Regions from separate parts of the Homo sapiens genome. Here region 2 is reported to be linked to region 1. Evidence: microRNA targets listed by miRTarBase, many of them from high-throughput screens and not tested one by one. Region 1 holds a microRNA gene; the other region holds the end of a gene's coding sequence.
What was found. The annotated mature microRNA hsa-miR-135b-5p reads UAUGGCUUUUCAUUCCUAUGUGA and lies in region 1 at 8,803-8,825, shown strand. An mRNA with a match to its seed (bases 2 to 7 or 8) in the 3' UTR can be bound and repressed. Matches are read on the target gene's strand: a 7mer-m8 pairs with bases 2 to 8, a 7mer-A1 pairs with bases 2 to 7 and ends in A, and an 8mer does both.

Region 2: the mRNA of TRIM4 is a reported target of hsa-miR-135b-5p. Seed matches in the 3' UTR shown: 7mer-A1 at 8,606-8,612.

What each region holds. Positions count from the first base shown.
Region 1 is chr1:205,442,353-205,457,185 of GRCh38, reverse strand. MIR135B (microRNA 135b) reads left to right here and starts at 8,788; the gene lies at 8,788-8,884. It overlaps BLACAT1 (BLACAT1 overlapping LEMD1 locus), which reads left to right and starts at 1,141. Exons shown (of 2, transcript NM_001397426.2): 1 at 1,141-1,269. LEMD1-DT (LEMD1 divergent transcript) reads right to left here and starts at 1,128. Exons shown (of 3, transcript NR_148934.1): 1 at 963-1,128; 2 at 109-294. It also overlaps a transcript of LEMD1 not described here. RefSeq lists a silencer at 6,994-7,203 and enhancers at 10,894-11,405, 11,406-11,917, 13,452-13,964.
Region 2 is chr7:99,883,268-99,898,100 of GRCh38, forward strand. It overlaps TRIM4 (tripartite motif containing 4), which reads right to left. Exons shown (of 6, transcript NM_033091.3): 6 at 7,136-9,479. The coding sequence ends at 8,896. Among named protein-coding and RNA genes, the nearest start is that of OR2AE1, 14 kb to the left of the region's middle. RefSeq lists an enhancer at 4,003-4,770.

The DNA.
Region 1 (14,833 bases):
GAGTGGCGGGGGTAGGAGGGGTGGGTCTCCTCTTCCTCCGTCCCCTCCCCCGCCCCTGCGGGCTCCCGGCCGCACACACACACATTTCCTGACAATTAGCGAACACACCTTGGCCGCGCGGCCTCCGGCGGCGGCGCCGCAGCTTTTGTCTCCCGCCCGCCGGGCTGCGAGGTGCGGGCGCTTAGGCGCGAAGTTGCAGCTCCGACGCGCTGCTCCGGAATGCCGGCTGACCGCGGCCGTCGGGGGGCGCGGAGGGCGGGGTGGGCCGGGCACGCCGGCCCCGGGGCTGGGGGGCTGCAAAAGAGAGAAGAGAGACAAAAGTAAGGCAGCGCTGGCCCCTCTTCCTTTGTTATAACCCTGAGTGTGTGCGGGCGTGAGCGCGCGCGGGAGTGTCTGTGTGCGCGAGGGTGTGCATATGTGTGTGTGCATGTGCGTGCATGTGTGTGCGCGCGTGTGTGCAAATGCCTGCATATGTGTGCGGGTCGGGACTGGCCGGGGGCGGCAGGACCCGAAGGCGCTAGGCGGATTCACCGGATTGGGAGTTGAATCGCGTCCCGGTCTTTCTAGCTGTGCCCGGAAATCGGGCGTGCGGGCAGGTAGCCGTCCCGCTCTCGCCAGTTCCTCCGAGTACTGAGCTCGGAGTTTGTTCACAGGCTGAGCCCGTGCTGGGGGTGTCGCAGCTTGGGCCCGGCCTGCAGGGGTGGGGGAGGAAGAAGCTCCGGCTGAGGGTCTGCCCCGACCGCAGAGGGCGCACGAGGGGGTCTCCCGGCACCGGCGCGGCGCCCACGCCACTACAGGGGCCCCCTGAAACCCGGGTAGAAGCTTGTGATAGGCGTTGCGACCCCGGGAAGGCGCGAGGCTGTGGAGGTGGCTCGTGGGGCCATGGAGGGAGTGGGGGGCGGCGAGACGGAGTCCGTCTAAATGCCAGTTCCCAGAAGTTCAGCGTATCGATTATTTCCTACCTTAATGCATATTTATGCCGCGCCGAAATAGGCTTCATAATTAACTCCCGGAGTCATCCGCAGAGGTTAAAGGGACCCCGAAGATTTGTGCATTGATTGGGTACCTCGGCGGGGTGTGTGTGCGCGCGCGTGTGTGCGTGCGCCCCGTGCTAACCCATTGAAGAATAATTATTTTTCTCCACTGGAAGCTACAGCAGAGAATCGGACAAGGAGGGAAGAAAGAGATTGGTGAGGGGGAGAGAGAGAGAAAGAGAGAGAGAGACACAAAGGAAGTGAGTGCAAGAGGAGCCGGCTTAGCATCTAAACTGTGAGTACTGAGCGAAAACAAACAGGCAGAAAGTGCCGCGAGTTGGCGACCCCTTGGCCGGGTTGGGGGCCCGAGTGCGGCTGAGGGGGACTTTCCTCCCCGCCCCGGGCTTGGCTGGGCGAAGAGGGGTCCCTAAGGCATGGGCGGGATGCGGGTTCAGGCACTCACCTGAAAGCTGACCGGCGGCGGGCTGCGTCAGCCGCCGCCCTAGGTCGACCAAAGAGGAAGCCCCCTCCCCGCCCCCATTGCCTTTGTTCCTTTTAAAGGATTTTGCCGCTGGTGGGATTGGGGGGAGTGTGAGAGGGAGCCTTGGCTCCGGAGGTAGCCGATCCTCCTGTCCCCGCTGAGTGAAACCCGCTTGGAGTGCCTCCTCCGTTTCCTTTATACCCCATGGTATGGAGTGGTATGAGGAAGGGGCTGTAAAGGGGTTAGGGATCAGGGGTTTGTGACACCTGTGCATATGTTTGTCTGGTACCCTTGGAACAGAGGGCCCCAGGAGACCCCAGTTTGGGGCCTGGGAGAAGCCATGTCCGTGGGCCAAACCACCAACTCCAGTATATGTGGAGGCAAACATGGTCCCAGGCTTAGAGGAGACACCAGCTACTCCCCACACACATCAGAGTCCTTCCTAGCCATTGTGTCTGTGGGGTCTAGGTCTGGCCAGACCTCTTGGCCATAAGCCTGCCTCCCACTGCCTCCCCATCCCTGGGGCCCTTGCATGCCTAAGAAAGGCCGGAGCTAGGAGCCCACCTGGAGGAGGAGCTCTGGCCGGGTAGGGGCCCAGGAAGGCAGCTAGACAAGGATAGGTGCTCCCTTTCCTGAGAAAGGGTCCATAACAGGGTGCCCCCGGGGAACAAGAGCTGGCCAGCCCTGCCAGTGCTGAGCTGGTCAGGAGAGGGCGTCTGGGGGCCCAAGGGAGAGCCCTCCCTTCCGACCAACATTCCACAGCCTCCGTTTGGAAGTGCTTGTATACTGCCTTCCTTTCCTCAACCCTCATTAACAAATTCTTCTTTTGGTCTGATTTAATCTTTCCTGACGATTTTTTTTTTTTTACATACCTTAATCTGCCAGTGAACAACTTTTCTCAACTTGAGCCTTAAGAAGGGCTAACTTTGGAGGAAAAGTCAGCTCTTTTGAGGCTGGGATGGGAACCCCTGGTGAAAGAGCTCTGAATTGAGGGGAAAGGGATTGTCCTCTAAGAAACCCCCTTTAGGGGTAATTTTGGTGGCTTATGCCCTCCAGGAGGACACAACGGAGGCCTGGGGCTGCAAACAACTTCTATCTCTCAGTCATTCAATGCCGGCTTTCCATTGCTCCACTGGGGCTGCCACAGAGGCAGGAAAAGAGGATCTCTCTCTCTCTCTCTCACACACACACACACACACACACTCACACCAGATAACACTTCCTCCAAGTAGTATTGGGCACTCTCTGAGACTCAGGGCCCCTCCCATTGCCCATACACCACCACCCCCCACCCCCATCCCACGCACCCCACACACACAAAGAGAACATCCAGGAGTCTCAGAGCTGGGGACTACCATCCTAAAGGCATGAAGAGGAAGGAGAGACCCTCAACTAGGGAGGATCAAATTCAGTGTAACCCTGGAAGAGGTGACATGAAGACTGGGTGGCAGGGGAGACCACAGTCCTGCTGACGTGACTGCTCTGAATTGCAGTCATATGCATATGGGCCTGTCTTCCCACTGGACTGCCTGCTGGGCCTCCCTGAGTGCTGTCTCCTGGTGCCTAGCACGGTGCCCATCCCACTGTCTGTGCTCGGTGCATATTTGATAAATGAGTGGTGTCCCTGAAGCCATTCTCCCCACCCTTCATCTCTGTCTGCCTCCTCCTCCAAGAGGTACTCCACAGGGGCTTGGGAGAGCCCAGTTCCATAGTTCTTTGGGCTGGGGCACCATCACCCCATGGGGGTTGAGGAGGGGCATGGAAGAAAAGGGGTGGGGGCAGGAATAGTGCTTGGGCAGACACTGAGACATTTCGATATTCATAAATTGCTCAGGTTGAAATGCATGTGAGTTTGCCAATGACCCATTCTTATATTTTTCTTTAACAGCTTTATTGGCTGAGAGGCAAAACTGTGGCCTGGGTCCTGGACTTGGGGAGGCTAGATTCTTGTAACACAAGAACCTCCCTGTGTCCTCCCTCCCACAGCCCAACCTTGGAGCTTATTGGAGATCAGATGCAGAGGCTGGGGGTACCCAGGCTGCGGAGACTCCCCCAGCTTCTGCCCGTGTTTGCTCTCCTGCCCCTGGGTCTCTTGCTATCTTCATTGCCTGGGACTATTGCCAGGTCTCCCGTCTCTCCCTTCCCTAAGAACCCAGGGCTGCCAGGCTAGGACCTCCCTCTGTTTGCCTGGGAAGTCTCAGAACTGAGGCTCCTGGAACAACTAGAGAAAGCCCTTGGGGGAAAAATTGTGCTTTCCTGCTCAGTGGAGCAGTGCCCACCCCACTTTACCTCAGGGGGCTGGGGGCTCCCAAGCTGTTAAATGAGAGGGAACCTGAGCTGTCCATCCTTTGGAGTAGAGATGGGACCTCGGAGCAGAGGGGACCGGAGTCATGGGGAAAGGCTACCTAGTGGCCTTTCTCCGTAGCAAGCACACTGCTGGTCTAGTGCAGGTCTGGAGGACAATGTATGTGGGAGCCTGCTGGGTCCATCTTCATGAAACTAGCCTTCTCGTGCGTTGGTTCTGGGCCAGGGACTGCACCCACAGATCCGTCTCAACCACAACTCCGAATCTGCAGGCTTGTTTGGGGCAGATAGCAGAATCAGATCCCCTGAGGCTCTCTGAAGTTTCAGCAGTGCCTTCCCACCCCCATGTGAGTGGAATTAGATTTCCAGGCTTTGCTGCCCACTCACACCCCATAACCTGTTCCAGCCCAGGGACTCTCTTCCCTGAGGGGACAGGCATAAGGGAGCTCCAAGCACACACCAAGCCTGAAATACAGGAGAGCTTAGATCTCTTGCTCTTGTTTCCAAGCTTTATCAGCCATTCATTCATTCATTGAATGTATACCTATACCATTCAGCCAACATCCATAGAATAATGTGAAATGCTTCTGATTTAGTCTTTTTGGATTGGAGTATATGTGGGGTGGTAAAAGCAAGTGGCTTTTATTTAGTATCTTCCTAATGTCCTGGTTCCCTTCCACCATAGGCAAAGGCAGGTCTGCTGAGCTCTAAGTCCCTGCAAAGGGTACATAAGTCTATGAAAGGCTCTGAGAGGATGAGTAAGCTCCAACGTAGACTCATGAAATTTTGGAGTTGTTGGGACCTTAGGTTTTATCTGTCTAACTTAATTCCAGATGCAAGGATCCCTTCTACATTAGCTTACCATTTATTGAGCAGCTACTGTGTGCCAGGCAGTGGGTCTGAGAAGTGGCTGTGCACCCTATGTTTGATGATCTCTGGTGACAGGGAGCCCACTGGCTCCTGTTGGAACAGTCCTACTTCTTTCCTTTCTTGGACTGAGCCCAGTTTGCCCCCCTGGCCCTTCCCTCTGTGACTTTCTCTGCTGCGGAGGGGTAATGGTTCACTTTTCTGGCAAAGGAGTTCTCCTCCTGGCTTAGCCTCAACCAGAGCCATCTCCAACCAGTGCCCTGATGTGGGCTGAGGTCCAGGGTGGTGACTGTGTGCCCTTGAAGGAAATGGTGGGACTGGGGGCTCCCTAAAAAGGGAGTTGCTGCAGCCTGCTCCCCAGTGAAACAGGCTTTAGTTTTCATGCTGGACCTGGCTTCTGCAGCTTGCACTAAGATTAAGGGACTTGTTACTACAGAGGAGGGGAGGGCACACCCACCAGCCAATCAGGCCAGGGACACCTGAGGTCTCTTCTCCCCAGCCCTCCCTCCGCCTCTTGCCCCAGGCCCCCTCATCTCTCCCTGCTGCCTCCGGTTCTGCCTGTGCTCCACCTCTGCCTCCAGTTTCTCTTTGTCAGCATTCTTCTTTTCTGGCTCTCTGCTTTCTCTCTCTCAGGCTTCTCCTACCCTCTCCTCTAAGAGCAAAAAATGCCCATCCAGGCAAGTTGTAGCCTCCATCAACCTCAGTTTTCTCATCTACCCAATGGGAATAATAATAATAAATATTTGTGTTACTGAAAGATGATCATTAAGGGGGACCTAGATGCATGACACAGTTTTCACTAAAAAAAAAAAGTTGCTTTTCCCCTTCTCGCCTTTTTTCTCCCATTGAGTTTCTTCTGCATTTCCATCTGCTATCACCTCTGTCCTCTTCTTCACAATTTCTCTCAGTGTCTCCATTCTGTGTCTCTCAGTTCCATCTCCCCCTCACTCCTGTTTTGTCTCCCACCTCCTTTTATTCCCTCTTGGTTACCCCCCCGACCACTCCCCCCAACTCCTGCCACAGGCGGCAGGGCCCAGGCTGTGCTGACAGCAAGGGCAGGCAAGCAGGGCGGGTGGCTGTCTCCACTTCTCATCAGAGGCCCAAGAATGTGTGGAGTCATGAGGGACAATGGGAGCCTGCGGCAGGAAGAATGGGGCCTCTGTTGGGGCAGAAGTTTCCCAAATCCGGCTGAATGGGAGTACCTGAGGGCTAGGGAGGGGTGGAAACTCCTGAAGTGGAGAGGAGGCCACTGGTGGTAGGTGTGGGGGATGGGCAAGGCTCTAGAATTGGCCACCATGGGAATTCTTAGCATCTGTTGGCATTTCTGGGGAGAGCTCAGACCTCAAAGGTGACTGCCTCTCTCCCTGGAGTGGCCAAGGAGGAAAGGGAGGAAAGGGATCCTGGGGGACAGAGCCAGGGGAAGCTAAAGAGAAAATGTTCCAGTGGCCCTGTGAGGTGGCCCTTATACACAGTGGATATCCCTTGGGCCCCTTGGGCTGCTGGGCCCCAGTTCTCACCACCAGCAAGCTGCAGAAAGGTTGTGGTGGCCCCAGAGGAGACAGGAATCGTGGGCATGGCCCCATCTTGAGGAGAGGGAGTCCTCGAGGTTCTCGCCCAGCAGTGGCCTTTCACTGCCCAGGTTCTCGGGATTGGAGGAAGCAGGGTTTTCCTCGGGAAAGGAGGTGAGGCTTGACCTGCTTCCTCTTTCTCCATATTTCAAGTGAGGTTCACTCCAGCCTGAGACATGATGGCTGTCCCCACCTCCATCCCCAGCCCAGTCCCTCTGGCCCAGACACACCTTAGAGAGAGATGCCCTACTTCCACAGCTTACTTGGGGCTTGTCAGGTGGGCTGGGATTGGTAGGCAGGCCAGGGGCTGAGCCCTTCATGTGCCCAGGGATAGGCAGCTGGGATTGGCAGGCTATGGCTGGGAATCCGAGCGCAGGACTGGGTGAGGGTGGGTGGAGGGGGCCAGGCTCGAGCAGGTCTGAGAAAGGAAATGGAAGGACAGATAAGTGCTGACCTTGTCCTCCCAGGGCAGGGGAGTGGTGGGAGCAGAATAGGGGTATGGGTGAGGAGAGGAACCAGGGCTGCGGAGAAGGGGAGGGGGGCCAGGCAGGAGAGGGGGGCCTGCAGGGAGCCGTCTCAGGTCTCCTGCCAAAAATTAAACTATAAAAAAGCTGGAGGGGAGCGGCAGGGGAAGGAAGGAGAGAAAGGAGATGGGGAGGGAGGGAGGGACCAAACAGCCCCTCTGCACCAATAGCCCGGCAGGGGGACGTGAGTAATACATGGCTGGTTCAGAGGGAGTGAGATCAAAAGCCAGTAGATACAAGAGGTTTGTGCTTCACCGACCAGACAGCCAGAGGCTCAATGAGACCTTTGTTACTCAGGCCCAAGTCAGGGTTGAAGGAATACCTGGCTGCCCCGCCTGCCCAGCCCGCCCCCACCCCCACCCCCACCGTCCTCAGGGCTGGGGGAGGGGCCGGTCACAAGTGAGTCAAGTTGAGTTGGGTACAGCTCAGCCCTGGCCGGTGGTGGGCGGGCAGGGGGAGGGAGGAGGCCTGCCCTCGCTGGGGCGTGGAGCTTCTCGGGGTGAGTGGAGGAGTGAGTGGCTGCCTGGAAGGCAGGAAGTGGCTCTGCGGGGAATTGTGAGGCGGACTGCGAGGGAAAGGGGGCCTTGTTGAGTCCGCCAGGTGAGCAGCCCCTGGGACCCCCAGCCCCTGGCCCAGCATCCCTTGGGAGGGAGCTGAGGGCATTCTGCCTAGAGTCCATGGCTTTATGCAGGGCCTGGGTCTGGGGTTCTGGGGGCCCATGAGAGAGGAAGGAAAGGAGAACCAGAGGGGGTTGGGGCTGGGGCAGATGGCCCAAAGTTCAGGTGGGAGGCCGCAGGATGCCTGGTTGTTTGGCCCTGAAGGTTGGGCATGTCTGGAGTGTGTGGAGGGGCGTGCTGTGCTGTGCTGTGTGCTGTGTGCTGTGCTGTGCTGTGCTGTTGTTGGGGAATGCAGGATTCCTGTCCAGTGAAAACAGGTTGCTTCTACCAGGGTTGTGCAGGGAGCCAGCAAGTGTTGCCCTGGGGCTGAGGGTACAGTTGGGGTGGGAGAGGCAGCTACTCCCTGGCAGAGGCAGGGCCTGATCTGGGCCTGGGGCCTCTTACCATCTTCTTGGGGGCCCCTGGGAGAGGTCTGAGGCCCCTGGGGCTTTCCTGAGCCTGGGCTAGCAGGAGCCCTAGAAGCCCACTTCTCTGAAGCTGATGCCTGCAGCTGACCCGTCATGGGAGCGGGTGGGGAAATAGCACTTGTGATTAGAACACACCTTTTCCAGGGCCCTGAGACCTTGGTTCGCCTTAACTCAGCTCTTCAATCCAGTCCTAGAGATGTCTGTGCTAACCCCCATGTCCTGCCAATGAGAGCGGCAGGGCACTGCGCACCCCTCCCACAGCCTTGTCAGGGATGGCTCCAGAGTGAGCTGCCCTCAGCTTGGGGAGGTTTCAGCTGAAGCCCTCTTTCTGACTCCAACCAGGTCTGGAGACAGAGATCTCACTCTCCTCTAAACTATGCAAGAATGGGTGTTGTCGGTAACCACCCAGACTGGTCTGGGTAGGTTGGCCCAGCCCCCACCCCTGGGGGCACTCAAGAAACCTATTTAACCCCTCTAAACAAAGGGTAGGTCCTCATCGCTGCCCTCCTTTACCCAGACCCTCCTTTGCCCTCTGTGCTTCCAGTGGCTGGACTAGAAAGAGTTAAGCTTTGTAAAGAGGGAGCCTAACCTGGGGCCCCCCATCCTGGGTACTGGCAGCAGCAGCCTTGAAAAGATCCGGCCTTATTCTCTAGGGAAGGGGTAGTTAAGGACCCTGGGCAGGGGGCTGGAAGCTAATTAAGGGAATTTGAGGAGGTCCTTTATGGCCAGGAAGCCACCCCTCCTCATACCCTGGAGTGAGGACCATTGTGTGAGGCCTTTGTAGGGCAAGAACTGGAAACTCATTACTGGGATGGCTTTAGTGCAGGTGGTGGAAGATGGTGAGAGAATTTAACCTGGGGGGCCCAGTCCTGGAGGGAGGCAGTGTGGGTGGGTCTGGGGTCGGGGGTGCTGAGAAGGGGAGTGAGGGCTTCTCGGGTGCCCCAGCTTCTCGCTTCCCTATGAGATTCCTGCCGCTGGACCCCTCCACTCTGCTGTGGCCTATGGCTTTTCATTCCTATGTGATTGCTGTCCCAAACTCATGTAGGGCTAAAAGCCATGGGCTACAGTGAGGGGCGAGCTCCTTCTCCTGCGCAGCTGCACCTCCCATGGGACCAGGTTCGGAGCCAGCCACCAAGGGGCACCAGAAGGAGGCTTTGCTTGGGGGTGGGGCATCACGGGATCTGGTAACCTGGGATCGGGGCTAAGCCGTGTGACCTTGGCCCAGTCACTTCCCTTCTGGCCCTGTTTCCTCACTCTGGAATGAAGAGACTGGGCCGGTGATTCCAGAGGGAGATTCCCTCTGAGGAAGGAAGGAGACCTTCAGGGTGTGCTGAGCTTTCTGAGTCGGTTCCTTCCCCCTTGCCAAATTACTGAGGCCTGGCTTATGGCCAGAGATTTGGGGGCTGAAGTCAAGGGCCTCAGGCCATGAAGACTTGGGCCTTTGCTCAGTGCCTCCAGGAAAACCTCACTCCTTCACTCCTTTCTCTGAGGTCAGCTTGGAATCTGCAGCCTTTTTTCTGTGTAAGGAGACCTCTGGGCTCTTTCTGAGGCTGAAATGGGAACACTCCATGCCGGCCACGAGGGAAGAGGAGGTGTCTGCAGAGTGAAACTAGGAAGGCAGGCGCTCCCCCGGGCGACAGGCTGGACTCCAGGGTCCCTGGCTCCTGGTGTGCTACCATCTCCAGGAGCTGCCCCCTCCTGCGGTGTGTGAAGGGCACCAGCCCTCCCTGCCCCCGTCCTGCTTGTCACTCAGCTTGCCTGGCTCCTCCCTATGCCTGTCGCCACTCCCACATTCCTTCCCCTGCCCCCTTTTAAATCGGCCTGATTTTAGCCCTCCCATCCTGGAAGATTCCAACAGGTGGCTGTGGTGGAAGAGGAAGCATCCTCGTACCCCGCCTCCTACTCCCTGTTCCAGTCCCCAGTCTGTCTAAGACAGACCACTGAAGAATCACAGAAAGCACTAGATTTGGTATTGACAATCAGAAGGCAAGTTTCTTATAATATCTCAGAGCCCTTAATTTCACCAACCAACACTTACTGGGTACCTACTATGTACCCCATGATTCTAACCGCCTCACCTGCACTAACCCATTTCATCCTCAAGACAGTCCTGTCTACTGTTAGCCTATTTAACTTATGGGAATTCTGAGGCACAGGGAGCTAAGAAATTGGCCCACGTTCATATGGATAGGAAGGAGCACAACTGGGACGTGAACCCACGTGGTCTGGTGCCAAAACCCATGCTCTTAGCACATCATGCTGCATATTGGGAGAGCCAACACCAGTGCATGGGAAAGTACTCTGAAAACCAGGGAGTGCTGTACCCAGACGGGAGGTTGTTCTCACGAGATCTCTATTGGATGCACGTCCACAAATTGGCCCCGTGGCCCAACTCCAATCACCCTTTGTCCATCACTGGTTTTCCTTTTCCCACAGGAGGTCGGGGGGAGCGGGGGGATCAGAACAATAGGAGAAGCAAAGAGAAATCCCAAGCCAGCTGGGTTTTTGCTGGGGCTGATCCAGGCTACTTCCCCTCCTGCCCCAGCTTAGATGGTGAAAGGAACAAGGCATGAGAATTGGCCAGGGTTTCTTACTTGCCCTCTGGGTTCTCTCACCCAGAGTTCAGAGATGGCTGGCACCTTCCTCCACCTCCCTCATTGTCCAGCTGCCCTGGGCCCACAGTGAGCCTATCCTGTTCCCTACCCTGCTCTGAGGCTGTCCAGGCACCTGATTTCCTTCCCTTAACTCCTGATCTCCTAACTGGAAAGCCAGGTTAGAGCCATGCCACCTTCCTGCCCCCTGCAACTGGGCCCCTCCCGGGAATCCTGTTGTTCAGTTTGCCCGGGTAGTCCCCAGCACTGGGCTCAGCCTAGGAGGAAGGGTACAGATGAGCCATTCCAGAGATTATACCTCTGTAAAGCTCTAGCAAGGCAAGGGACTTTGTAGGGATGGCTGAGTAAATGTTTGTTGAATGAAGTACGAACTGGGAGAAAAGATGGATGGGGTAAAAGAGGTAAGTTGCCACCAGCAGGGACATAGAGCAAGCCCACAGCTCAGCAACTCACCCGAGACAGTCCTCGCTTTGCTGGGGCTGGGCCTGGATTGCTTCTGGGGGTTACAAAGGTGGATCTCCATTCTATTCTTTGTCTCTTGGCTACTGCCAATGGGACAGGCCTGGAGAAGATATGTGATTGTATATTTCACATGATTGTTCAATTGCATTGAATAAGCAAGTTGCCCTCATGTCCCTTCTCCCTGGAGGATTCACAGATCAGAGGGCTGTGTGTGTCCTGTCCCCTGCCTGCAGACGGCTGAAACTTTATTCCCAGCAATCTAAGTCTTTTTTACAGTCCTCAGATATACCCAGCATAAGGCCTCCCTTGCGAGAGTGGGCCCATGTTTAACAACACTGAATTCAGATGACTCTCTCTTATTGTATTTGTTCCATTTTTAGTGGAAATAGAGTTTGACTACTAAGCCCTACTCCTTCCTAAATATAAAGACTATTGGGGAAAAAAAGTCTCTCTCCCCATCTTTCGAAAGTTTGACACTAAAGTTTGACCTTTGGGGTTCATTCTGGCGCTGACAGTCTGGTCCACCAGGTTCCCAGCTGCTGCTGCCTGTCACGTTGCCCACTCTTACGGTGGGCCAGCCTCTGCCGAGCCAGGCTGGAAAACACTGAGTGCAGGCCACAAAGACATTTCAGGACTATTGCTGCTCTGACCTCTCCAGCTCCCAAGAATCTCAGAACCACTGAGAATGCTTGGCTGCCCTTGCAGTCTGGAAAAGTGGAGGGAGCTTTCTCCATAGGTGGGCAAGCAAGATACAAGGGTGGCTGGTCTGGCAAGCTAGGGTCTGTGGTCTCTGAAGGCCATTGGAGGCAGAGGCCTTGGCCTGTGATTCCAGAGAGCTCGGTGAGCCAGAGGCTAGAGCTCAGGCTCAAGCAGGCCAAGAAGGAGTTAACCTCCAAGGAGAATGCGGGCTTCTCCCAGACTGGAGGTCTGTGCCCAGTTTTGCTGGTGCCAACTCCGGGAAGAAGTCCTGGGATCTGTAGTTTGTGCCACCACCCACCCCTGGCCTGCCTGTTTATCAACACGGTCTTGTAGACTACAGTTCCCAGAAACCTGCAGAGGCTAGGCTTTGGGGGAAGGGGTGGGGAAGGAGGCTCCGTGGCGGCCAGAGGGAGAGGGAGAGGGAGGAGGTGGGGAGAGAAAACCCAATTCACCCCCTTCGTTTTTAATTCTTTCTCCTGGTGTGTCTGCTCCACCGCCCGAGCTAATCCCCCAAATCCGGTCTCCTAAGCCGCAGCTGCTTCCCTTCGCAGTGATGAATGGCTCAGGGAGGGAAGGTGAATTCATATTTTAATTACTGAGACGCGGTGCTAAGGGAGCCGGGGAGGGGGCGGAGGGCTCAGCTTTGTTCTAGAGGCGTCGAGGGCACACCCTCCTTACTGGGTCACTTCTCTTTTGCCCTTTACCTGGGGTGGGGGGTGGCGGGGAGTTAAGGTGGGGGTTGCCTTGCTGAGAGTGCCTCTGCTCTCTGCCTTGGGAGATGAAGGGATGGGTCGTGGGGGGCGCAATATCCCTCTTCTTGTTTATCAGAGAATTGCTGGCATGCCCCAGCACTTTTAAATAGCTTCCTAGCCTTCCACCCCCGCTGCCGCCCACTCTGATGAAGGACATTGCCAAAATTCGAGACACCTAGGAGTTTGTGGTCTGCAAGCCTGGGGCCCTGGATTTCTCTTTATCTTACTTTCTGGCCTGCTCTGAGTCTCCTCTTTCTCTTGGTTCTTCCACATGTTCATGCTGTCTCTGACTCACTGCCCCATTTTTGCCAGAGGTGCAAGGGTTGGAGGACCCCAGGAGAGTATCTGGCACAGAGAGATGTGGGGGTCAGGCCAAGGGAAAGGATCAGCAGGGAGGCCGAGGAACCTCCTAGTGGTGGGGGAGGACGGATGCTCTATGGATTGGCATCTCTTCTGCTTGGCTCCCACAAAGCTGGCTGGGCAGGGCATCGTCTGTGCCCCCAGACCGTAAACCATCTTGGACCTGAGCTGGGAAAAAGCCAGAGAGGAGGATGGGGAAGAAGCCAGGGCCAACAGCTTGCAGTCAGATGCAGCCAACTGTGTGGTAGCAGGAGGTTTGTCCAGTGTCCACCCTGCCTCTCCATCCTATTCTGGGCTTCTGTTTTTCTGGGGGCTGTTTTTCCATTCCTTAGTCCCTCCTGGACTATGGGCATGGAAAAGGAGGGGGAGGATGGGAGGGGAGTTCCCATGATGAGCTCTGATGAGTGGGGAGTGGACCCAGGTGCTAGTCCAGACTCCTCCCCCTCAAATAGACGCAGCAAGGGGACCTGACTTCAGGGAGCCTCCAGCTGGTACTGGAGCCCTCTGCCAAGGGTGAAGGGGTAAAGTCAGGGAAGAGAGTCGACAGGACTCCTGCTCGAGCAAAGCAGAGAGGAGCAGAGACCACAGCCTGGCAGAGGGACTCCCCAGGTACCTGCTGCTGGGGACTCTGAGGGAGGAGTGGGGTTCACAGCGGGCAGGGATACGGAAATGGGTTGGAATTCTCTGCCCCATGTCCCCCCACTTCAGGGGCTGGCCCGGCAATCTGCATGCTGCAGACAGAGCCCAGGCAGCCTCCGGGGCATGGAGTTGTGCACCTTACAGTGAGGACCCTTTTAGAGACCCTGTTAGAGAAGAGGAAGGATAACCAGAGCACTTTAGAGCAAAGATCTGAGCAGAATAACCAGGCCCTGTTTATGATACTTTCTACTCTTAGATACAAGGACCCAGGAATCCCACTGAGGCAGCCAGCCCTCGAACACCTCTCGGGAGCCAGGCTACAGCCCCTAGCCCAGCTCCTGGCCAGCTTCATTAGCTCTCCTTTCCTCTGATGTGTAGGTTCTGGTTCCTGTGACCTCACTCCCCATCCTTCCCTACAGTGACAAGCTGAGCAAAAAAAGCCAGGATTTTCTTAAATTCCCCAAAGGACCCTGGGGAGGAACGGGTCATTTAAGGGGGTATATTCTGCTGTTTTTAAGAAAGAACAGTCATTGAAAAGGAAGTGGGGTGAAAAGGAAAGGGGATCGATGCACTCTGGGGCCAGAGACCCTGAGCTGCACCTTGACCTGTTTGTGGGGCTGCTACCTGCCTGGCTTGTTTTAGTTGGGAGTTCCTTCCCAGATTAGCCTTGTTGTGCCTGTCAATTTCTCCCCATGTATTTTTCAATAATCATGGGACTGCTTTGTTGATCATACCCTTGACTTATATCCCCAGCAAGAGAAGTGCACGTGTGACAATAACTGATTACACGGGAATCCACCTGCCCTCCCTCCCTCCTTCCGGATCAAGTTAGGATTCCAGCCCCTTAGGTTTGGGGTCTTAGTGTTAAATCTTGCCTAATCTCCTGGTACACTGAAATGAGGTAATGAAGGCCCAGAGAGATGTAGCCACTTGCTTAGGATGACACAGCATGTTAGCATCAGAGCCAGGAATAGAACCCAGGCCACCTAAGTCCCAGATTGGATCCCCGTCTCTCTCTAGGTTTGTCACAGGAGGGATCCAGAGATAGCTGCAGGGGATAGATCTAGAAATATAGTAGTTGTGTCTTGGCTCTATATATATCCTGGAGGTTGCTCTCTGCTAACTATATATACTCCACCAGAGTGGGTGTGTAAATGATGCTGGAAATCGGGTTATTAAATAACCAGCCTACCTACCCATGCTGACTCAAGCTGGGCCTCCTGCCCATCCAGCTGGCCAGTGGAAATGCATTGCACCTATTAATTACAGCTATTAGCTGTATTACCGGGACGCTGAGAGGCTGAGGGAGGGGAGAATCTTGACAGGACTTGGATCCACCGGGCACTGTGCTTGGTGTGGGCCTTGGCTCTGTCTGGAGAAACACGAAGGAAGTTTTTCCAAAAGGGCAAGGTTGTCCAGACCAGTGGAACTGTCCAGAGAGCCACCATCTGGGCCATGCCACATTCCTCAAAGGCAGTGAAACCACTTTGCACATGTGCCTTGCTGG
Region 2 (14,833 bases), not on the chromosome of region 1:
TTGAAGATAAGCTGACTGTATATGCATGGGTTTATTTCTGCACTGCCTATTCTGTTCTGTTTGTCTATCTGTCTGTTTTTATGCCAATACTGAAGCGACATCATTTGTCTGGGGAAATACCCAAGGTTCGTTGTCTTGTGCTAAGGAAATCAAATATGAGGACACATACAAGGAGTGGGTTTAAGAGCAGAACTTTAATTAAAGTGAAAGAAAGAAGACAGAGCTTCCTCATGCAGAGGAAGGGAACCAAAGTGGGTTTCCAGGTTTGGGGTGAGATGCAGTTGACTTTATAGAGGGGCTTAGAAAGGCAGTGTCTGATTTTCATAGGGCCCATGGGATTGGTTGGACCAGGTGTGCCATTTACATAGCCCGTGATTAGGCTGGCCATCCCACCCTAATCTTTTATTATACAGGTGGGATCTCCACCTGGCCAGCACCATGACATCTGCACATTTGGCAACAAAGAGAAGGGAGGAGAAAACCTCCATGTTGGATGTACCTGGCTTCCAGGTATCTCTTTGGTATCGGCACGGCTGCCAGTATTCACCTATGCAAGCTTCCAGCTTGTGTATCAATGCTTGCAGCTTGATTTTTCAGGTTGATTTTTGTTAGAAAAGAAATGATGTGGGGGCTGCTTTTTATTAAAAGGAAATTCCACTGAGAATTCTTTTACCCTTACTAACTGCCTAAATAATTCCTTTTTAACTTCTATATCAGTATCATGCTGTTTTGATTATTGTAGCTATGGAATATAGTCTTAAATCAGGACTTGTAATGTCCCCAGCTGTGTTTTTCTTGCTCAAAATTGCTTTGGCTATTTGAGGCCTTTTGTGGTTCCATGTGAATTCTAGGATTTTTTTCTATTTCTGTAATAAATACCATCAGGATTTTGATAGAGACTGCACTGATTCTGTAGGTTGCTTTGGTAATATGAACATTTTAACAATATTATTCTTCCAATTCATTAACATGGAATGTCTTTTCATTTATTTGTGTTTTCTCCATTCCAAAAACAACATAATACACATTCTTATCATCTGCAATGGCACATACTCTAAAATCAACCAATCAGCCATAAAACAATTCTCCACAAATTCAAAAAAACCAAAATCATACCAACCACACTCTCAGACCACAAAACAATAAAAATAGAAAACAATAATAAGAATAGCAATCAAAACTAAACAATAACATGGAAATTAAACAACCTGCTACTTAATGACTTCTAGGTAAACAATGAAATGAAGGCAGAAATCAAGAAATTCTTTGAAACTAGTGAGAACAAAAGATATAATATACCAAAATCTCTGGGACATGGCCAAAGCAGTATTAAGTGGAAAGCTTATAGCACTAACTGCCCACATCAGAAAGCTAGAATCTCAAATTAACAACCTAATATCACACCTTGAGGAACTAGAAAAACAAGAGCAAACCAAATCCAAAGTCAGTAAGAGACAAGAAATAACCAAAATCAGAGCTGAACTATATGAAATTCAGGTGCAAAAAAACCATACAAAATATCAATGAAACCAGAAGTCGATATTTGAAGGAATAAGTAAGATTGATAGACCGCTAGATAGACTAATAAAGAAAAAGAGAGAAGATCCAATTAAACACAATCAGAAATGACAAGGGGACATTACTACTGACCCAATAGAAATATTTAAAAAAAACAAAAACCTCAGAGAGTATAACAAACACCTCCATGCACACAAGCTAGAAAACCTACTAAAAGTGGCTAAATTCCTGGAAACATACAATCTCCCACGATTGAACCAGGAAGAAATTAAAAATCTGAACATACCAATAACAAGTTACAAAATTGAATTGGTAATAAAAAGCCTATCAACCAGATAAAGCCCAGGATCAGAAGGATTCACAGCTGAATTCTACCAGATGTATAAAGAAGAGCTGGTATCATTCCTGCTGAAACTATCCAAAAAACTGAAGAGGGACTCCTCCCTACCTCATTCTATGAGGTCAGGATCATCCTGATACAAAAACATGGCAGAGACAAAACAAAAAAAGAAAACTTCAGGTCAATATCCTTAAAAAAAACATAGATGGAAAAATTCTTAACAAAATACTTGGCTGGGCTTGGTGGCTCACACCTGTAATCCCAGTACTTTGGGCGGCCGAGGAGGGCGGATCACGTGAGGTCAGGAGTTTTAGACCAGCCTGACCAATATGATGAAACCCTGTCTCTACTAAAAATACAAAAATTAGCCAGGCGTGGTGGCACGTGCCTGTAATCCCACCTACTCAGGAGCCTGAGACAGGAGAATCGCTTGAATCCGAGAGGCGGAGGTTGCAATCAGCCGAGATCAGGCCATTGCACTCCAGCCTGGGCAACAAGAGCGAAACTCCATCTCAAAAAACAAACAAACAAAATGCTAGCAAATCTAATCCAGCAGCACATCAAAAAGGTAATCCACCACTATCAAGTAGGCTTTACCCCTGGGATGCAAGGTTAGTTCAACATATGCAAATCAGTAAGTGTAATTTATCACATAAACAGAACCAAAAACAAAAACCATATGATTATATCAATATATGCAGAATACATTGGGAGTCATCCACCTGCCCTCCCACCTGGGGGTTGGGAGGGCAGGTGGATGACTACAAAGCGGATACACAGGGTAATGATAGGATGATGAAACTATTATATTTGGTACTGGAGTGATAAATACATAACTCATGCATTTGCCAAAACCCATAGAACCATACATCAACAAGGAGTGAACTTTGATATACACAAAATTTTAAAAATTAAACAGGATGTTCAAAGAATTCCAGGATGAAATGCAGACTGTGAGGATGACTCTAACTATATTACAAATCTTTATTACACAATCTCACTGAAGAATGGAGTGGTAGGGGAAGGAGCTGAATAACTTTGGAAAATGCTGTTTTGATGGAAAAACATAAGGTGAAAAATAAAAGGAATTGTGCACAAACACTGTACTCCAGTTGATAAATTTCTCACTGGGATACAGGTTAACAATTCTGAATCTGCTTTGCGTGTATGATGGGGTTATAAATAAACAGATGGTGGATGATCAGAGAAGAAAATTACAGATGATAAGAAAGGAGGGAAGGCTAGAATGAATCTCATGGAGCTGGATTACAGTTGGAGACATTAGTATTAATTCATGCTTAGCTGAATATAAATATAGATGGGTAGACAAAGAAATAATTCTAGAAGTGTGTATATATATGGGTATTGTGATGGTTAATAATGAGTGTCAACTTGATTGAAGGATGCAAAGTATTGATCCTGGGTGTGTCTGTGAGGGTGTTGCCGAAGGAGATTAACATTTGAGTCAGTGGGCTGGGAAAGGCAGACCCACCCTTAATCTAGGTGGGCACCATCTAATCAGCTGCCAGCACAGCCAAGATATAAAGCAGGCAGAAAAATGTGAAAAGGCTAAACTGGCTTAGCCTCCCAGCCTACATCCTTCTCCTGTGCTGAATGCTTCCTGCCCTCAAACATCAGACTCCAAGTTCTTCAGCTTTGGGACTCTGACTGGCTTCCTTGCTCCTCAGCTTGCAGACAGGTCTGCATGATATGCAGATACCACCGGAAAGTGGACAACTGCAGCACTACAGCCCCTTTCTAGGACATCCCTGAAGGACAGGAAGTCTGTTAGCTAATTCACTGCATCAGACTAACCTGTAAAGGTGTGTGACTTAAGGTCTGTCATGGCCTTAGGTCTTATTTATAATTTGGTATCTTATTGTCACAGAGCCCATTTTGTTAATCCTGTTGTCTCTATTTTAATATTAATGTTGGGCAGCTGTTGTGTCTAAACTCCAAAAGGGAGGAGGTGCACCTGAGACACGTCTAACTTCTCAGCCCATCATGGCCAGAAATTTGTTTTTCAGGTTTCTCCGGAGTCCCCTTAGCCAAGAGGGGGTTCATTCAGTCAGACGGGAGGCTTAGGATTTTTAGTTTACAACTGACAGTTTATTTTCAATCCTGTTTGTATATCAAGAAGCATGGGAAAGAGTTTATGGGTGGATTTTTTTTTTGGTTGGCTTTTTTTTTTTTTTTTTTTTTAATTGATCATTCTTGGGTGTTTTTCACAGAGGGGGATTTGGCAGGGTCATAGGACAATAGTGGAGGGAAGGTCAGCAGATAAACAAGTGAACAAAGGTCTCTGGTTTTCCTAGGCAGAGGACCCTGAGGCCTTCCGCAGTGTTTGTGTCCCTGGGTACTTGAGATTAGGGAGTGGTGATGACTCTTAAGGAGCATGCTGCCTTCAAGCATCTGTTTCACAAAGCACATCTTGCACTGCCCTTAATCCATTTAACCCTGAGTGGACACAGCACATGTTTCAGAGAGCACAGGGTTTCGGGGTAAGGTCACAGATCAACAGGATCCCAAGGCAGAAGAATTTTTCTTAGTACAGAACAAAATAAAAAGTCTCCCATGTCTACTTCTTTCCACACAGACACGGCAACCATCCGATTTCTAATCTTTTCCCCACCTTTCCCCCCTTTCTATTCCACAAAACCACCATTGTCATCATGGCCCGTTCTCAATGAGCTGTTGGGCACACCTCCCAGACGGGGTGGTGGCTGGGCAGAGGGGCTCCTCACTTCCCAGTAGGGGCGGCCGGGCAGAGGCGCCCCTCACCTCCCGGACAGGGCGGCTGGCCGGGTGGGGGGCTGAACCCCCCACCTCCCTCCCGGACCGGGCGGCTGGCCGGGCGGGGGGCTGACCCCCCCACCTCCCTCCCGGACGGGGTGGCTGGCCGGGCAGAGGGGCTCCTCACTTCCCAGTAGGGGCGGCCGGGCAGAGGCGCCCCTCACCTCCCGGACAAGGCGGCTGGCCGGGCGGGGGGCTGACCCCCCCACCTCCCTCCCGGACGGGGCGACTGGCTGGGCAGGGGGCTGACCCCCCACCTCCCTCCCGGATGGGGCGGCTGGCCGGGCAGAGGGGCTCCTCACTTCCCAGTAGGGGCGGCCGGGCAGAGGCGCCCCTCACCTCCCGGACGAGGCGGCTGGCCGGGCGGGGGGCTGACCCCCCCACCTCCCTCCCGGACGGGGCGGCTGGCCGGGCGGGGGGCTGACCCCCCTACCTCCCTCCCGGACGGGGCGGCTGGCTGGGCGGGGGGCTGACCCCCCCACCTCCCTCCCGGACGGGTCGGCTGCCGGGCGGAGAAGCTCCTCACTTCCCAGACGGGGTGGCTGCCGGGCGGAGGGGCTCCTCACTTCTCAGACGGGGCGGCTGCTGGGCGGAGGGTCTCCTCCCTTCTCAGATGGGGCGGCCGGGCAGAGACGCTCCTCACCTCCCAGACGGGGTCGTGGCTGGGCAGAGGCGCTCCTCACATCCCAGACGGGGTGGCGGGGCAAAGGCGCTCCCCACATCTCAGACGATGGGCGGCTGGACAGAGACGCTCCTCGCTTCCTAGATGGGATGGTGGCCGGGAAGAGGCGCTCCTCACTTTCCAGACTGGGCAGCCAGGCAGAGGGGCTCCTCACATCCCAGACGATGGGCGGCCAGGCAGAGACGCTCCTCACTTCCTAGACAGGGTGGCGGCCGGGCAGAGGCTGCACTCTGGGCACTTTGGGAGGCCAAGGCAGGCAGCTGGGAGGTGGAGGTTGTAGCGAGCCGAGATCACGCCACTGCACTCCAGCCTGGGCACCATTGAGCACTGAGTGAACCAGACCCGTCTGCAATCCTGGCACCTCCGGAGGCCAAGGCTGGCAGATCACTCGCGGTTAGGAGCTGGAGACCAGCCCGGCCAACACAGCGAAACCCCGTCTCCACCAAAAAAATACGAAAACCAATCAGGCGTGGCGGCGCGCGCCTGCAATCGCAGGCACTCGGCAGGCTGAGGCAGGAGAATCAGGCAGGGAGGTTGCAGTGAGCCGAGATGGCAGCAGTACAGTCCAGCTTCGGCTCGGCATCAGAGGGAGACCGTGGAAAGAGAGGGAGAGGGAGAACGTGGGGAGAGGGAGACCGTGGGGAGAGGGAGAGGGAGAGGGACAGGGAGAGGGAGAGGGACTTGGTTGGCTTTTTAAACAAAAATGAACACCTAGGTCCCATCCCATACCTGATGAGACCAGAGGGGTCAATATCAAGACTCAAGCACAGAGACAAAGAATTGTGAAGAATAAGAAGGGTAGGGGAAAAGAATTTTTTCTCTGTTGAAGATGCAAGTTCTTTGCAATCGTATGAAGGGGGACTCATGAAGGCTTAAAAGGAAAAGTTTGGAATCATTGCCACCAAAGACGTTAAAACAAGTCAAGTGATAAAAAAAGTTTACCATGCAGCTCAAAGGGCCCACTTGAAGGCAGAGAGCAAGGATTTATAGCAGAATCAATCAACCTTTCAATAGCCAGAAGGAAGAGAGGAGGGAAGGTACTGATGAGTTTCCAAAGGATTAGCTATTAGTAAGACAGGCACTGAAGGACGTCCTGAAGGGCAAGTGTAGTCATCATTTCCTAAGGTGGCCATAACAAACTGGGTGGCTTAAAACAATGGAAATTTACTGTCTAACCTCAGTTTTGGCAGTTAGAAATCAGAAACCAAAGTGTTGATGGGGCCATGCTCCCTTCAAAGCTTCTAGGGGAAGATTCTTCCTGGCTTCCCCCAGCTTCTGGTAGCCCCAGGTTCCTTGGCTTGTGACAGCATAACTCCAATCCAATCTCTGCCTCCATCTTCCAGAGCCTCTTTCACGTTGTTTCCATCTGGCATTTTTCTGTGTGTGTGTGGGCATGAGTGTGTGAACATATGCATAAGTTTCCTTCTTTTTATAAGGACACCAGTCATATTGGGTTAGAGCCCACCCAAATGACCTTATCTTGTTTACATCTGCAAATATCCTATTTCCAAATAAGGTCATTTTCACAGGTAGCTCTTCAACATATGTTTTTGGGGAACATAATTCAACCTATAACAGCAAATATCCTGGGAAGTTGAGAACTCAGTAGAAACTGTTGAATGAGGGGGCTGCTCAGGCTGAATAGGAAGACAAGCCAAGATGGCTGATGTATAAGAAGGGGAGGAGGGGAGGAGGAGTTAGGGAAGATGCTGTAAGTTGTGTAAGAATCCTCACTACCACCATTCAACCCAGCAATCCCATTATTCGGTATATGCCCAATACCCAAAGACATCATTCAACCATAGAGACATATGCATGTATATATTCATTGCAGCACTATTCACAATAGCAAAGACATGGAATCAACCTAAATGCCCATCAACAGTAGACTGGATAAAGAAAACATAGTACATATACACCATGGAATACTATGCAGCCATAAAAAAAGAATGAGATCATGTCTTTGCAGCAACATGGATGGAGCTGGAGGCCATTACCCTAAGCAAACCAACACATGAACAGAAAACCAAACATCACATGTTCTCACGTATAAGGGAGAGCTAAACATTGAGTACCCATGGACACAAAAAAGGGAACAACAGACACCAGGGACTACTTGAGGGTAGAGGGTGGAGGAGGGTGGGGTATCAAAAAAGTATCTATTGGGTACTATGCTTATTACCTGGGTAATGAAATAATATGTACACCAAACCCCTGTGACATGTAATTGATCTATAGAACAAACCTGCACGTGTTCCCCTTAAACTAAAATATAAGTTAAAATAAAATCCTCGTTAAATCACTGCCTGAAAGTCTTTACTGAAAATCTGGGAGAAAATATATTGAAATGTTAGTAGTGCATAACTTTAATTTTTATACTTTTTGCATCTTACAAACTTTCTACAATAAGTACACATGACTTATATAAACAGAGAAAAGCAATCATTATCTTAAAAATAACTATCCAGTAACTGCCACAATCTCCTGAGTCCAGACAATCTAGAGCAGAAGGGTAGACTGAGGAAAATATACACAGTATAAAAAAGTAACAAAATCAAAACCTGAAACAAAGATCAACATCCAATAAATGCTTCTGAATAAAGGGAGAGTAGATAAGAACTGGATTTTAATCCCAACACTGCCATTTACCAGCTGGCCAATACTGAGCTAGTTACTCTAAAGAGTTCAGTTTTCTCATTTGTACAAATAGGATTTGACTTTCCATCTCACTGAGTTGTGATGAGAGTCATATGCAACAGCATATGAAGAGGCTAGCAAAAGATATTTAACAAGCGTTCAACATTCTCATGATGACATGAATAACACTGTACATACAACATACCAACTTGATAAATACACAGCACAGTTAATAGCTGAGGGCAGAGTTATGGTTGGGAAGAGAGAGAGTGCAACATAGGCAGAGTGAGGGGGGATTCCCACAATTTTCTAAGACAGAAAAGTGGGGGAATCAGTAGTTACTGGAAAGAATAGGCAATGCCTGACTGGATAGAAAAAGATTCTATGCCTTTGTCAAATTTCACAAAAGTGACTTAAGCCTATACTGCGGGATGTTCACACTACGTCCCTTTAGTGCAGTTACGGTACTTCAGGCTGCAAGTAACCAAATACAACTAAAATTGTCTTATACAATAAGGGCGTAATTATCTCATATAACAAGAAGCTTGGCATGAAGGAAATTTCAACAATTTCACAACGGCAACAAAAACTCTGTTTCTTCTACCTTTCCACCATTCCTGTGTTCTCAGTTCCAATATGGCTGCTAACATCCATATGTCTTCCCCGCACATCTCTTTAAAAGCTACAAAAAGATTTCCCAAAAGCGTCTTGGAAAATTTCCTGTCCCATCTCCATTGGCCAGACCCACCTCCCATGGGACTGCCTCTTGTGAAGCACACAAAGGGCAGATACCAAACGGTACCGTTAGGGAGACCCAGAAGATGGACCATCCAGGATAGAGACATGAAGGGCAGAAGAGGGCCCAGGGATGTGTGTCCCTCAGCTGGACTACAGGGAAGGAGTTTTGGTCAGGGGAAGAAAAGCCTCATTTCCTATCAGTCACTGGTGGAATGACTAAAGATGCTAATGGACTCAACCAAAAAAATGGCCGGAGGCGTGAGACAGAAGAACAAGAAAAGGTGTGCAGGTGCACTCCGTCCACAGCGCTGTAGAAGGAGACATTCCCAGTCCCACGATCCAGGTAAACCCCCACTCGGTGGAGAGCTGGCTCTTGCTGGGTGGGAGTTCCAGGGAAGCCTATCAAGGGCCAATAGCCAGCAGCACTCCAATAAATCGCCCAGATGCCCACATCTGGGGACATTTTTGAACGATCAGTAATTCCCATGACGTCCTCCCGACACACCCCAACAGCAACCTCCAGACTATCTCTACTCTCAACTTCCCAGTAATGTTTCCCTGAGGTGAAAACGTTTTTTCCCAGAACACAGGGTAAGTGCTGAAATCTCTCTACAAAAGCAGTCTTCTGAGGATTCCTCCATCCAGCAAAGTAGTTCCATGCTGAAGAAAACACTGGCCAAGAACTGGCTGATGCTGTATTTTTCACGTATCTCCCTTCCTGGGAGAAGACGAGTTTGGGATGAGCTGTGTCTTCAGCTAGGTTTACAGCCACTGTGGAGAAAATGAGAGCTAAGTAGTGCAGCAGCTTATCATCAACCCTTCCCCAGAAATGCCCATCTTTTCCAGCATCAGTTTCATCTTTCTCCTCCTAACAAACACTCATGACTCCACTGCTGCCCAACTGATCCTCAGCCAGGCCTAGCAGGCCACAGCATGGCCTTTAGCAACCTGAAGTCCTCATTTCCCTTCTGCTCTAAAAGACTAAGCCCTAGACCAGGCGCAGTGACTCATGCCTGTAATCCCAGCACTTTGGGAGGCTGAGGCAGGGAGATCACTGGAGGTCACGAGAGTGAGACCAGCCTGGCCAACATGGCGAAACCCCGTCTCTACTGAAAATACCAAAAAACAAACAAACAAAAAAACTGGCCCGGCATGATGGTGGGCACCTGTAATCCCAGTTACTGGGGAGGCTGAGGCAGAAGAATCACTTAAACCCAGAAGGCGGAGGTTGTAGTGACCCGAGATCGTGCCACTGCACTCCAGCCTGGGTGACAGAGCAAGATTCTATCTTTAAAAAAAAAAAGACTAACCTCTAGAAACTGGGGATCTAATTATTTCATGCCCCAAGTTTTCACAAACAGCCTAAAATTTGGAGAGATATTAACAAATTCTCACGTTGAATCAAAACTAGAACCAAGGCTGCCGACTAGCTGGTTCTTTGGCTAGATACACACAGGTGTCACATAGGACAGAATAATGAGGTCTCTTTTCACGGGTTCCAGTTGTTTATGGGGCATCTCCACAAATCTCCCCACAGATCATTCAAAACTGAACTAATTATCTTACTTACACCCCCTTCTATACTCTCGGGACTAATCCACTTCATATGCAGACATCTTGCCTTCTATGTTCTCTAAGGTGTCAGAGTCCCCTCCACCTGAACACTCATGCTTTTAAATCTTTATTTTCGACTCTTTCCTCTAACCTTCAATAGCTAGTTAGTCACCAAGTCCTACCAATTCTACCTCTGAAATTTGTCACTCAGGTTCTTTTCCTCCCCTCCACTCCCATTGCCACTGCCTTTACTCCAATCTCCAGTGTCACTCAATGTGTTAATAATGTCCTCCCTGGCCTCCCTGACTCCAAATTCCCTTCCCTCTAACTCTCCATGTCTCTTGAGTTTGAGGACTTTTTTTAAAAAAAATCAGGAATGTATGCTAGAGTTTGACAAATGCTTTTCCTGCTTCCACTGAGACAATCACATGGTTTTCCTTTTTTTTTTTTTTTTACTTTAGTGATATAAACTACATCGATTTTCAAATATTAAACCAACTATGCTCTTCTGGGATAAATCTCACATATTGTGATTATTATACATTATCCTTTTTGTATACCAAAGGATATATAAATTGGTTGTGATTATTACATATTATCCTTTTAATATATTGTTGGATTCAATTTGCTAAAGTTTTCTGAGAATTTAGGTATCTATGTTCATGAGAGACATTGATGTATAATTCTTTTCTCTTGTGACGTCTTTGTCTGATTTTGGCATCATGGTAATACAGGCCTCACAGAAAGAATTGGGAAATATTCCCTCTTCATCAATTTTCAATAGGAGTTCTTGAAGAATTGGCATTTATTTCTTAAATGTTTGGTGAAATGTTTCACCAAGAAAATCATCTGGGGACCAGGCGCGGTGGCTCATGCCTGTAATCCCAATGCTTTGGGAGGCCAAGGCAGTGGATTACGAGGTCAGGAGTTCAAGACCAGCCTGACCAACATGGTGAAACCCCATCTCTACTAAAAAAAAATACAAAAATTAGCCAGGCATGGTGGCGCGCACCTGCAGTCCCAGCTACTTGGGAGGCTGAGGCAGGAGAATCACTTGAACCTGGGAGGTGGAGGTTGCAGTAAGCTGAGATTGCACCACTGCGCCCCAGCCTAGGCAACAGACCAAGACTCCATCCCCCCCCCAAAAAAAAAAAGAAAAGAAAAGAAAGAAAAGAAACAAAACGAAAGCCATTTGGAAGGTTTCTAATAGCAATTTCTTTCATAGAAATAAGATTATTCCAGTTATCTCTATCTTCATGAGTCAGCTTTTGTAATTTGTGTCTTTTAAGGACTTCATCCATTTCATCTATATTGTCAAGTTTATTGGCAAAAAGTTGCTCTTAATATTCTATTATCCTTTTAATATCTGCAGAATCTGTAATGATGTCACCTTTCTCATTTCTGACATTAGTAATGTGTGTTTTCTTTTTTTCTGATCATTTTGATTAAAGGTGTGTCAATTTTACTGAAATTCTCAAAGGACCAGCTTTTGGTTTCATTGGTTTCTGTTGGCTTTCTGTATTTCACTGCAATGATTTCTGCTCTGATTTTTATTATTTCCATTCTTCTGTTTACTTTGGGCTTTACTTGCTCCTCTTTCTCTAGTGTCTTAAGGTGGAAGCTGAGGTCAGTGATTTGAGAAGTTTCTTCTTTCCAATATAGCACTATACACTTTTCTTTAAGTTTTGCTTTAGGTGCATCCCACAAATTCTGGTATATTGTCTTTTCCTTTTCATTCCATTCAAACTACTTCCTAATTTGCCTTTTGATTTCTTCTTTAATTCAAGGGTTACTAAAAAGTCTATTATTTAGATTCTTGATATTTAGGGGGGTTTCTAAGGATATTTTGATACTGATTTCTATCAATTCCATTGTGATCAGAGAACATACTCTGAATGATCGGAATCCTTTGAATTTGACACTTGCTTTACAGCCAGCTTAGTCTATCTTGGAAAATGTTTCACGTACACTGAAAAAAATATGTAGTATATAGCTGTTGGGTAGAGTGTTCTATAAATAATGGGATCAAGTTGATTGATAATATTATTCAAGTCTACTATATCCCTGCTGATTTATTGCCTAATTATTCTAAAAATTATTAAAAGGTACTGAAAACTGCAAACGTAATTGTGAATTTGTGTATTTCTTCTTGCAGCTCTATTAGTTTTTGCTTAATATGTTTGAAGCACTGTTAAGTGCAGAAATGTTTAGAACTTACATTCTCTTGACGAACTGACCACTTTATCATTAGGATATAACATTCTTTATCTCTGGTAATATCCTTTGCTCAGAAATCTACTTTGATACTAATATACCCACTCCAGATCTATTAACATATCTTTTTCCATTCTTTTGCTTTAAACGTATATGGTTCTTCATATTTAATGTGTTTCTTTTCCAGTAAAAAATTGGGTCTTATTTTTTTTTTTTAGCCAATCCAACCAACTTCTGCCTTTTGATTAGCGCATGCAGACCATTTATAGTTAATGTGATTATTAGTATGATTAGATTTGTGTCTATTATTTTGCTGTTTTCTATTTGTCCTATATGTTTTCTTCTTTTTCTGCCTTATTTTTTATTAATCTTTTTTTATAATTCCACTTTATTTCCTTTTATTGACTAGCTACATCTCTTTTATTTTAGTGGTTTAAGGTTTATGGTATCGTATGGCAGATGCACCTGACAGCAATAACTCAAGCATACCCTAACAATGACCCTATGGTCCAAGTAGAATGTGGGTTCACACTTCCAAGCTAAGAAATGTGGGAGTGGCCAACTCAGAGATCTGCTCCTTTTCTAGGAAGGACATCTGAACATCTGAACCTCTGGCCCATTCTTGGAATGCAGGCTGTACAGAGGATCAAGGCCCTTTGATTCGGGTTAAATGGAGGTTGTTAGGAGCAGGTTGCTAAGTGAAAATGCTATATAATCTGCATGCTTTTTACAAACAGTAGCAACTGGTTTTCGTGTCCAGCCCACTGCTCCTGGACCACCCAGCATATAAGTCCTCAATAAATCCTATGTCTCATTCACCGGCTCCAGGTTTCTTCCACCTCTCAGACACAGTGCCATCCGTACTGAAATCAATAGGGGTCTAGCACAACAATTAGCCCAGCAGGAGGTTGGAGAAAATTCCACGAGTGCCAAGACAATGGGATCAGGGGAGAATCCACGGTGGAAATCCTGGGCTGGTTGTCCACATGTATGTGGGGCCCAATAGCCACTATCCTTGATGGGTGGGGCCCACCAGGTGAGTATGGGGATACCCCCAAAATGCCAAAAGTTCTGGAAGAACTGCTGCAGGGGGTGGATCCAACTAAGGGAAAGTCAAATGCCCAAGCTGTGGCAGCTGCAGTTGGCCGGCCAGTCCTGACTGTGCTTAGAGCAGCCCCCAAGGTTGAGCTTGTGGCACAGGCAAGGGTGTACCACTTACAAGATGAGCTGCAACTAGGGAGATATTAGCTCAGGCTAATTTCTGTCCCACCTGTGGGAACAGGATGACAAAATGGAGACACTGGTTTGTTGCATAGCCTGTTTGAAGGGTCACTGACTGCCACATGGAGTTAGGACTATCATGACTAAATTGTCCTGGAACCCTAAGTCCTGGGACCCCGTGAAGAGATCTAGTGGCAGGGAGGATGAGGACTGGGATGAGTCCATAGAGGTTCCCATCCTCTCAGCATGTCTGATGGTCACTACCAAGATAAAAGAAGACCAACCACACCCACAGAGGGTAGCCCTACAAGACTTGCCTCCACCTGAAAGAAGGCAGACCACCACAATGCAGGATTATACCGCTGTGGAAATGGTGAAGCTGGGAAGTAAGTTCAAACAGAGTGGGAGACAGTCGATCCCACCCTCCCTGGGATTTTACACTCTCCCACTTAGTAGAAATGGATTTTGAATGTTCCCGATGCAGATAATGATAAATGTTTGAGGTGATGAATATGCTAATTACCCTGATTTTATCATTATGCACTGTATACATGTATTGAAACATCACACTGTACCTCATAAATATGTAAAATTATTATGTAGCAACTAAAAAAAAGAACAAAAGATTTCTCAAGTCGGTTCTTGCACTCCATGGGGGAAAGGCCTAGAAAAGAATATACAGGTCACACCTATTTTACATCCTACTCCCCAACCCCCTGTATTTCCAAAATAATGAATCCCAGTCTTCCTTGTGCAAGGGGACAATCATCCTCTTATAGAACATTATAATACCCCCCACTGTCTTACTCTGGCCACTTGCAAAGCATTGCAAAGGGCCCAATCCACTTTGTATTATAAACCAGGCGCCAGGCCACTGCCAGGGGTGGTGCTCTCAGAATGACACAACTTCCTGTGTCTTACTAAATGGCTTCCCCTTTCTTGTACCCACTAAACATCTCACCTGTTGCCCACAGATGGGGTGCAGCAAACCGCTTCACCAACTGGGTGCACATGGTGACCTCTTTCCAGAACACAACAGACTATTGGGTCTGCAGAGAGTTGCCCCTCTCCTCCACAATGGGCCTGCCATGGGGCATCCATGCTGCTAACTTGAGTACCTGGAGCCATGTCTATAT